Homo sapiens: one gene and its partners. The protein of the gene in region 1 purifies or fractionates together with the protein of each later gene. This does not show direct contact. Each region holds a gene or a part of one and is shown on either strand. Other genes may lie near its edges.

Region 1 (3,500 bases):
AGATGCAACTTACAAATTACCATTTTTCTGAGGGTGGGGCCTTTCCTTTTTTTGCCTGTGAGGATATAGTAGACTTTCAAAAAATGGCTCTGGTCTGACTGAAGGTGGGGTCAGGCCATCAAAGGAGGAAGAAAGGGCCAAGGAGAAGTGATGCTAGAGGCCGGGCATGGTAGCTCACGCCTCAGCACTTTGGGAGGCCGAGGCAGGTGGATCACCTGAGGTCAGGAGTTCGAGACCAGCCTGGCCAACGTGGTGAAACCTCGTCTCTACTAAAAATACAAAAATTAGCCCTGCGTGGTAGCGCACACTTGTAATCCCAGCTACTCAGGAGACTGAGACAGGAGAATCACTTGAACCCAGGAGGCGGAGATGGCAGTGAGCCGAGATCGCGCCATTGCACTCCAGCCTGGGTAACAAGAGCGAAACTCCATCTCAAAAAAAAGAAGTGATGCTAGAAAGAGCTGGACAGAAGGGAACACCAAGACACCTGTCCATCTTCACTTAGCCAAATCCAGGGCCCTGACAAGATGGGTTTTCACCAGGACATTTTATGGGGCTCCTGGCTCCCCACTATTTCTGACAGTAGGATTCCTAGGTCTGTGTCACCTGTGAGACAGAAGGGGAGCCACATTCTGGTGGCAGGGACAGAACCACACGCATGGACACTGATGTGCCATCCTGGTCCCCACAGGTCCCCTGACCAGTACAGCTCCTAGAATAGGTCTTCTCTGAGCTGGAGGGGATAAGCCAGACTGCTTCCTGGGAGAATTGAAAAGGAGCAGGGGGCCCTGAAGACAGAATCAGTCAGGTACACAGTGAGCAGGGGTGATGTGACGGTAGAGAGACATGGGAACAGAGACAGCACACACACCACATAGCTCTGAGATGACGCACAAAATGTTATGACTCCATAGACTGAAGCAGACACAGCGTTTCTTTTCTTTTCTTTTTTTTTTTGAGACGGAGTGTTGCTCTCGTCCAGGCCGGAGTGCAGTGGTGTAATTTCGGCTCACTGCAACCTCCGCCTCCTGGGTTCAAGTGATTCTCCTGCCTCAGCCTCCCAAGTAGCTGGGATTATAGGCGTGCGTCACCACACCCGGCTAATCTTTGTATTTTTAGTAGAGATGGGATTTTACTACATTCACCAGGCTGGTCTTGAACTCCTGACCTCAAGTGATCCACCCGCCTTAGCCTCTCAAAGTGTTGGGATTACAGTTGTGAGCCACTGTGCTGGCCTCAGACACAGCATTTCTAAGGCCATGTTGAGGGTGCCAAAGGAAACCAAGATATTTTACCCCAGAATATACTACTTTGACGTATTTTGAGTCGGCTGTCAGAGGGCCAGCACACAGAAGTGGCCCTGCAAATCTGGCTTTTGAGGGAGATTTGCATCTGCAGAGAATCTGCATTGATGCAACCTGGCTTTCTCTGAGGCCCTCCCTGGTCCAAATCTAGGAAAGATTAACTGAAAGTCTGACATGTTTAAAGGTCTGAAAGACACATACATCACCTGTTTTCTCTGAGGGGTGTTACCTATGAGGTTTCATTCATATAAAAAGACCACTTTTACTGGCCTGGCCTCCGTTTATCCCTCCCATAACTATTTTTGCCAAAGTCCAAGTCCCTTTTTTTTTTGTTGTTGAGACAGGGTCTCTGTCGCCCAGGCTGGAGTGCAGTGGCATGGTCTCAGTTCACTGCAACCTCCACCTCCCAGGGTCAAGTGAGTCTCATGCCTCAGCCTCCTGAGTAGCTGGGACTACAGGCATGTGCCACCATGTCCAGCTAATTTTTGTATTTTTAGTAGAGACAGAGTTTCGTCCTGTTGGCCAGGCTGGTCTCAAACTCCTCACCTCAGGTGATCCACCTGCCTCAGCCTCCCATAGTGCTGGGATTACAGGGGTAAGCCACTGCACCTTGCCCAAGCTCCCATTCTTTCTGTAACCTCAAGATGGTATAAAATCATCAACCATCTGGCTATCTCTTTGACTTCCTATATTTTTTTGACTCCCTTGCATATTAGTTCTTCTACTAATCTGCCTTTTTTCAGTTGGTTTTTCAGCAGACCTGCAGAGGGCACAGGGGAAGTGTTCCTTTGGCCCCTGCAGCACCACAGGACCCCAGGTCCTGTCTGTGGTCGTGGTGGTAACGGGTGCCAGCCTGGACCAGTCCTGCATCGTGGAGCTTCACTCTGGACATTCTAAGGGGCAGACTGTGGCTGGGGCGTGAGGGATAATAAAGGTGGTGTGACCGAAGCCTCCTGTCTATACTGTCTTTTCTCTCCCCTTTCTCTGACAGCTCAACATCCTGGTGGATACAGGCAGCAGTAACTTTGCAGTGGGTGCTGCCCCCCACCCCTTCCTGCATCGCTACTACCAGAGGCAGCTGTGAGTCCTGGGGAGAGCCCGGGGGAAGTACCTTTTCCAAGGATCCAGGGCTAAGAAGGGTCAGGGGAGGGGTACAGAGAGAAAGAGTTGATCCTCAGATTTTCTTCTTGCCAGGGAAGGGGAAGGGCGAAAAAAAGACAGTGACCAGGAGAGACAGGGTGAAGTGGGTGGTGAGAGGAGCTATACCATGGGAAAGGGTGAATTGAGAGGTAGCCAGGAAGTGCTTCAGTGCTGAGACAGGGCAGCCTCCTGTGGGAGGGAAAGGAAGAAGAGCCCATAGCTCACAGAACAATCTTAGGGGGCCCATTTTCTCTGCCTGAATGGGGAGACGAAAACCCCACATCCCCTCGGTGTCTCTCAGTTCTCTAACACCAGCTAAGTCTAAGCTGAACAGGCCTCAGTGACGGCTCCCCTTGCTGTGTTCTTACCCAGGGGCCACTCTAGGTGGCTTTGCATAGTCCAAGGACATGAAGGAAAGGGTCTTTCATAAACCCCTCTGCCTAGACCAGTATCAGAACTGAAAGCTGAAATATCTCCTCCATGCACCACCCAGGGTGCCACCAGTTGGATTCAGCTTACTGGTGAAAGGGGGGTTGAAGAGGACTGGTGAAAGTGGGGGACTGGTGAAAGGGGGGTTGAAGTGGGCTTTAAGATAAGAGGCAGTGAGGGGTAATCTGGAAGCCCCCTTAGCATAAAAGCAGGAAGAAGAAGGGATGAGAGGACACCAATATCTGAGACATCAGTGTGTGCAAACGTGAGTAGAGGCTTAAATCCTATCCTTGGACTTGTAGGCAGCTGCAAAACGCACCTTCCCTGTTTCCTCTAATGTCCCAATCTAAAAGAAGCAGTCAGGGAGGAGGGTGCAGGTAGGATCGATGAAAGGGCATTCACTCCAGTTCCTCGTTCCAGTTCCATCACTGCCCCCACCACACACAGAAGCCCTGGTTAGTGGTGTGATTAAACACAGGTGGGGCTGCCACATGTTGAGCACGTTTCACAGAAGTGGTGTGTAATACCAACCTGCTTTTCTGAGATGCTTGAACAAACCCCTTCTCTAGAACTTGCTGTAGAGGTTCCACATTCACCCTGCCTGGCACTTTCTCTACCACTCGGATG
Region 2 (3,500 bases), on another chromosome or scaffold:
GGTGGCTACTATTTTAAAAAGTGTTGGCAAGGATATGGAGAAATTGGAGCCCTGGTGCACTTTTGGTGAAAATGTAAAATGGTGCAGCTGCTACAGAAAACAGCATAGTAGTTCCTAAAAAAAATTAAAAATAGGATTATCATATCCAGCAATTCCACTTCTGGATTATACATCCAAAAGAGTTGAAAGCAGGTTCTCAAAAAGATATTTGTACAACCATGTACATAGCAACATTATTCATGATAGCCAAAAGGTAGAAGCAACTTGTGTCTATTGACAGATAAATGAGTAAATAAAGTGTGGGGTGTGTGTGGATACAGATACACACACACACTTAAATAATATTTAGCCTTTAAAAGGGAGGAAATTCTGACATATGCTATTAATACAACATGGATGAGCCTTGAGGACATTATGCCAAGTGAAATAAGTCAGACACAAAATGACAAATATTATGTGATTCTACTTATATGAGCTACCTAGAGTAGCCAACACAAAGTAATATGGTAAAAATCATAGAAAACACAAAGTAAAATGGTAGTTTCCAGGAGCTGGGAGGAGGAAGAAGTAGGTAACAGTTGCTTAATTGGTGATTGTATTTTATAAGATGAAAAAGTTTAGAGATGTGGTTGTACAACAATGTGAATATACTTAACACTACTGAACTATACACCTAAATAGTAAATAAATAGTTAAGATAGTACTTTTACCTAGGTCTGGGTTAACTTAAAGCTTTATTGGAAGGGTTTTGTGAAATGATTAAAGAAATTGTATCTTTATCTTTGGTTCTAATCTACGCTTTTGTTTCTTTTCACAGTGCAGCCTTCATATTCATGCTTCCTACAGCATCTCCCAGAAACTGAATGTTCCAATGGCCCCACTCTCAGAGCCGAATGCCGTAGGCATTGTCATTGCTCATGGTAAGGAACCTCCCACTCACCACCTCCAACTGGAACAGTGGCTGAGCACACTGAAACTCAGCCAACAGGCTTTGAACGCTCTGAGAAGAAACAATGTGGATGCTTTTACATTCCTTTGGTAGAATTTCTTACATTATAACAACACTTTGGGTTTTTCATCAACTTTTATCAGAGAGAGCAACACAACTTCTCCGAAGTTTTTGGTGGTTTTCTTTCCTACTAAAAGAGGCTTGATGGGAAATAATCAGAATAAATTCATTCAACATTATTCTCTCTGGAGTAAATGCTCTCTGTTTCATTGCCTATTTGTGCTAATGAGATGGTGGATTATATTGCAGGTAGCGTGGGGGATGCCATCTCAGTGATGGTTCCAGATGTGTACATCTCAGATGATGGGGGTTACTCCTGGACAAAGATGCTGGAAGGACCCCACTATTACACCATCCTGGATTCTGGAGGCATCATTGTGGCCATTGAGCACAGCAGCCGTCCTATCAATGTGATTAAGTATGCATGAACTCATCTCACACACACTGTCTGCATAGAGGGCAACTGGGGGAATGTTCTTCAGTTTATTGGGGGGATGTTACAGACTATAATTCAAATTTTTGCATTTGACAGAACTATAGATAAGATTCTAGAAAGGATTGCTTTTAATTGGCAACTCAGATTAAATGGCATTGTTTTTTCTTCTGACTGCCTTTAGCTAACATATTTGTCACTTCTTAAAAACATTCTTTCTGGGTTGGGCGCAGTGGCTCATGCCTGTAATCCCAGCATTTTGGGAGGCCAAAGCAGGAGGATCGCTTGAGGCCAGGAGTTCAAGACCAGCCTGGGCAACATAGGGAGACCTTGTCCCTTGTCTCTAATATTATTTCAATCAAAAAAAAAACCATATATATATATATGTGTGTGTGTATATATGTATGTGTGTGTGTGTATATATATGTGTATATATATGTATATATATGTGTATATATATGTGTATGTGTGTATATATGTGTGTATATATATGTGTGTGTGTGTGTGTATGTATATATATATATATATATATATATATATATATATATTCTTTCTGTCTACAAAATTATTATGGAAGCGTTCAAGCACTCTAGATTGAAAATGACTTCTTAAGTACAAGTTCTGAGCTGGGTGCAGAGGCACACACCTGTAATCCCAGCACTTTGAGAGGCCAAGGTGGGTGGATTGCTTGAGCCCAAGAGTTCAAGACCAGCCTGGGCAATGTGACAAAACCCTGTCTCCACAAAAAAAAAAAAAGAAAAATTAGCTGGGCGTGGTGGTGCACGCCTTTGGTTCCAGCTACTTGGGAGGCCGAGGTGGGAGGATCACCTGAGGAGGTCAAGGCCACAGTGAGCTGAGATCGTACCACTGCACTCCAGCCTGGGTGACAGAGTGAGATCCCGTCTCAAAAAAAAAAAAAAAAGAAGTATAAGTTCTTATAAAATAATTTGATTGTTATTTATTTATTTATTTATTGAGATGGAGTTTTGCTCTTGTCACCCAGGCTGGAGTGCAATGGTGCAATCTTGGCTCACTGCAACCTCTGCCTCCCAGGTTCAAATGATTCTTGCGTCTCAGTCACCTGAGCAGCTGAGATTACAGGCATGCACCACCACACCCAGCTAATTTTTGTGGTTTTTTGTTTTGCTTTGTTTTTTGTGTTTTGGTAGAGACGGGGTTTTGTTGTGTTGGTCAGGCTGGTCTCGAACTCCTAACCTCAGGTGATTCACCTGCCTCAGCCTCCCAAAATTCTGGGATTACAGGCGTGAGCCACCACAGCCAGCCTTAAATTTATTAATTTAAAAGCCAGTTCTTACCTGGGTCACTCTCCTGTCTTTCCTTTGAAATAATTTCTGTAAAGGTATTTACTTTCATATTCTCTCTGAACAAATCTCTTCCTTATCCTGTTAACTACAGACGTTAAAAGTTAAAATAGTTGGCTGGGTGCGGTGGCTCACGCCTATAATCCCAGCACTTTGGGAGGCCAAGGTGGGAAGATTACCTGAGGTCAGGAGTTCAAGACCAGCCTGCCCAACATGTGAAACTCCATTTCTACTAAAAATACAAAAATTAGCTGGTGTGGTGGCACGTTCCTGTAATCCCAGCTACTCAGGAGGCTGAGGCATGAGAGAGAATCACTTGAACCCAGGAGGCAGAGGTTGCAGTGAGTCGAGATCGCGCCACTGCACTCCAGCCCGGTGACAGAGTGAGACTCCATCTCAGAAAAAAAAAAAAAAAAAAAAAAAGTTAAAATAATTGTCAGCCAATAAGCCACCACCTAAATGTAAGGGGTTTTGTCTGGTTTGGGATCAAAAAGCCAGAGTGGTTTTCTGAATTCCCAGTACACATTGATCCTCTGTCATGATCTTTCTGTAATTGTGGTTTCAGGTTCTCCACAGACGAAGGTCAATGCTGGCAAACCTACACGTTCACCAGGGACCCCATCTATTTCACTGGCCTAGCTTCAGAACCTGGAGCTAGGTCCATGAATATCAGCATTTGGGGCTTCACAGAATCTTTCCTGACCAGCCAGTGGGTCTCCTACACCATTGATTTTAA
Region 3 (3,500 bases), on another chromosome or scaffold:
GAGAGGATATGTTGGCACGTGAATGAGGGCTGCAGACAAGCTGGCTCTCATTAGAATAGTCACAAATAATAGGGCAGAGCAACCACTTACAACTGGAAATTTGGTTTTAACTGATTGAACTGTCTTGGTTAGGTCAAGTTCTTGAATACAAACGACTGACTGCTTCGTAGATCCTTATATGGACATCACAGGACACTTACCCTAGTAACTATTTGGTTTATTCCTTTTCGTGGTGACATATCTAAGTAGTTCAACGTCCTTAGCTTCCTTGTGTTTTTATAAACATTCTTGTGCTTCATGTGCCTTCAGGAAATGTGGTGTGTCTGTTCATTTCCTTTACGCTTCCTTACTGCCACTACATAGACACTGCAGGCATTGGTTGCTTGCCCGCCGATGTACCACCTGATGAAGTTCATTCCTCTGTATTCCAAAGTGCAAAGGCCTTGTACGTCAACACCCATGATAGACAGCTTGTAAGTAAGGTGGTGAAAGATGTGTTAAGTGGTGGGGTTTTTCCCGTCTGATAATTAGAATTGAAATAGTTTAGTAAAGCTCTTGATTTCCTGCAAATGAGTCCTATAATTCTGTCTTTTTTTAAAAATAGACTGTTGGCGATTTTATATGGAAGTTAACCAGAAATGGAATTGGAGCATTGATGATCTGTGTTCTTTAGATTCAGTAGAAAATATTTTAGCGTTTACCAGCATATATCACTTGAAATAGACCAAAAATGCATATAGAAGAGACTTGAGTTCACTAGCTGTTACAGCATTGGTTACCTAAAATCTACTATACTCGTATAGCTGATATTCTACTTAGCCATCAAAGCTCTTTAGTAAAAGTATATATTGTTTAAAACTGCACTATTTAACATTTTTTCCCCATGTTTAGTGTTCGGCTAATGAATGAGTTCACTAATATGCCAGTACCTCCAAAACCCCGACAAGGTTAGTAAAAATGAGTTTTGTTGATGCTATTACATATTGGGAGTTATGGAGACAGATGACTTAAATTTGGTAAATTCAGTCTTGTTGGGAAGATAGTGTCTTTACACCTATGCCATTCTCAACATTCAGCCAGGTGGGAGGTGGGGGAGTTTTGATGATGTTGCTTTTTTCATCATTTATGAGTTCATTGTAGTTAGGAAAACCTGTGTCCTCTTTCCATTGCAGCTCTTGGAGATAAAATCGTGAGGGATATTCGCCCTGGAGCTGCCTTTGAGCCCACATATATTTACAGACTCCTGACAGTTAACAAGTCAAGCCTGTCTGAAAAGGTTTGAGACTTCTCTGTTGTCACTAGTATCAAGTGTTGCCTTTTGTTCCAGTGTTTGTGTGGTAACTGTTGCTTATTGATATTTGCCCTCTGTCTCCAGCGCTATAAGTAGATGTAGGTTTATAAGAGTCCATTGCTTGGATGATATGGTGCACCAAGCACTGCTCTCAGTACTTTACATATATTAACTTAGTTGACTCTGAATAAAGTATGATTATGGTCTCCTTGTTACGGTTAAGAGAAGTGAAGCCACTGTCTGAGGTCAGGTAGCTAATGTACATGGCAGAACCCAGCTTTCAAGTCAGTTCTCTTAACCACTGCACTATATGCCACTGGGGTAGAATGGAGTGCACTGGGCCTGGAATGATGGCAGTATTCAGAAGAGCTTATGTCTTCATCATACTTACAGGCTTTAGTAGCTATTTGATGTACTTGATTCCTTTACCTAATTTTTTTTTAATCACATACTTTGTTACTAAAGGCATGAGACCAAGGGGCCAGGGAGCCCTTATAAAAGGCCCTGGGGCTGTTGAGAGTGACTTGGGCCGCCCTTAGCACCGTTAACTGGAGCATTTCTTTCCTCCCAGATTGAGTTTGTGATGAATCAGTACAAGCAGTTGAAATGATGCTTAGGGAAATGTATTCAGAGAGAAAAATAGTTGAGAAAATGCCATTTAAGTCAAGTTTACTTGAAGCTTCATTGCTTTGAAGAAGAGTGAATGTCGAGGGCATCGTTGCAGGATACCACCAGGGGTAGCATAGGGTCTTAAGCTTTTTAAATGCTTATAATGCAGCTTTTGGTATTGGCTTGGAATTTGCACTTCCCAAGTAATGGGAACATGGTGTTAGGGATGCAGAAATGGAATGAAGTGCGCCCTCTGCCCTCAGTGAGGGAATGAGTTAATGAATAGTCAACAAGAGAAGCACAAAGATACAGAGATGCCTTAGAACCCAGAGGGGCCCACCTAGCACAGGTGGAGGCAAAATAAAGTGGGTGCTCAGGAACCCCTCTTGGATCGTGCACAGAGATAATGCTATGAACAAAAGCATCTTCTAAAGGTTACATTAATAGGGGATGTGTTGGGCTCCCCAAGACCACCCTGAGGTTGGGTGATTCACTGGAAGAACTCAGAAAATGCAGAAGCTGGTATACCCGTGGCTATGGTTGCTGACAGCAAAAGCATGCGGAGCAGAGTCAGGAAGGGAAAGGACAGGTGAGGCAGGGCCTAAAGGAAACTTCCAGACTCCTCTCCCAGTGGGGCCACAAGGCTACGCGTAACTACTCCAGCACCAGACTGTGACCACACGTGAAATGCTGCCAACCAGGGAAGGTCATTACAGACTCCGTGTCCAGAGTTTTTACTGAGGGCTGGTCCCATAGGTACCATCTGCCTGGCTTGAACCAAAAGTCCAAACTCCCAAAACAAAAGCAAAGTGTTCAGCAGAAAGCACATTGCTTGCGCAAACGGTTTAGGCAGAATCCCGTATCAGTTATTGGACCGATGGGAACCTTTCTGAAATCCAAATTCCCAGACACCAGCCAAGGGGCAACCTTGCAAGCAGGCCTTTCCAAGGAGAGCCACCCAGGCCTGCTATGAAAAGTCTTCAGCACACTTTGGCTGTGCCAGTTTTTGCCCTTTTCTGCACACGTGCAGAGCATGCACTCACGTGAACAGCTGCTGTCCACGTCTACTATCTGGAGAGGGCAAGTAAACTTTGCAGTTTACCTAGATGCTTCAAACAGAACAATTTGCAGGGCCTTGGAATAGGCAGTTGTGCTGTGAAGAATGAAATATGAACTGATGATAAGTAACAGAATCAAACACTCGTGATGTGGGATTATTAAACTCTTGGGTGACTCGTCTGTGAATGATTTTGCTGATGTATGTGTAACACAGCTAACGCTCTAAATCAGTGGAGTTTTTCCACATGTAGTTTGAGTTCTTTCCCATGTAGTTGTCCATCATCAAAGACAGACAGAAGCAGACATAGGGCTGCTTAGCTCATTGCTCGAGTGGTGACCCTTGCAGTTGAACAGTGAACTGGCCCTAGACATCTAGTTCTTCGTCTTCTATTTTGTTTACCCAAGACAGAAACTTTTTTTTAAATAACTTTTTTGTGATAAAGGTAATGTGGCCAGGTGTGGTGGCTCATGCCTGTAATCCCAGCACTTTGGGAAGCCAAGGCAGGCAGGTCACCTGAGGTCAGGAGTTTGAGACCAGCCT

The links. Proteins that work in one complex are often made in the same cells at the same time.
Region 2: the proteins of BACE1 (region 1) and SORT1 purify together in Homo sapiens (affinity purification with western blotting; one study listed by BioGRID). This does not show direct contact.
Region 3: the proteins of BACE1 (region 1) and USP10 purify together in Homo sapiens (affinity purification with western blotting; one study listed by BioGRID). This does not show direct contact.

Annotation. Positions count from the first base shown.
Region 1 is NC_000011.10:117,295,757-117,299,256, reverse strand, and holds part of BACE1 (beta-secretase 1 isoform A preproprotein), read left to right. Parts: intron 1-2,295; coding exon 2,296-2,384; intron 2,385-3,500. UniProt on the Homo sapiens protein: Responsible for the proteolytic processing of the amyloid precursor protein (APP).
Region 2 is NC_000001.11:109,324,919-109,328,418, reverse strand, and holds part of SORT1 (sortilin isoform 1 preproprotein), read left to right. Parts: intron 1-817; coding exon 818-920; intron 921-1,258; coding exon 1,259-1,427; intron 1,428-3,329; coding exon 3,330-3,500.
Region 3 is NC_000016.10:84,759,000-84,762,499, forward strand, and holds part of USP10 (ubiquitin carboxyl-terminal hydrolase 10), read left to right. Parts: intron 1-363; coding exon 364-473; intron 474-891; coding exon 892-947; intron 948-1,172; coding exon 1,173-1,276; intron 1,277-3,500. UniProt on the Homo sapiens protein: Hydrolase that can remove conjugated ubiquitin from target proteins such as p53/TP53, RPS2/us5, RPS3/us3, RPS10/eS10, BECN1, SNX3 and CFTR.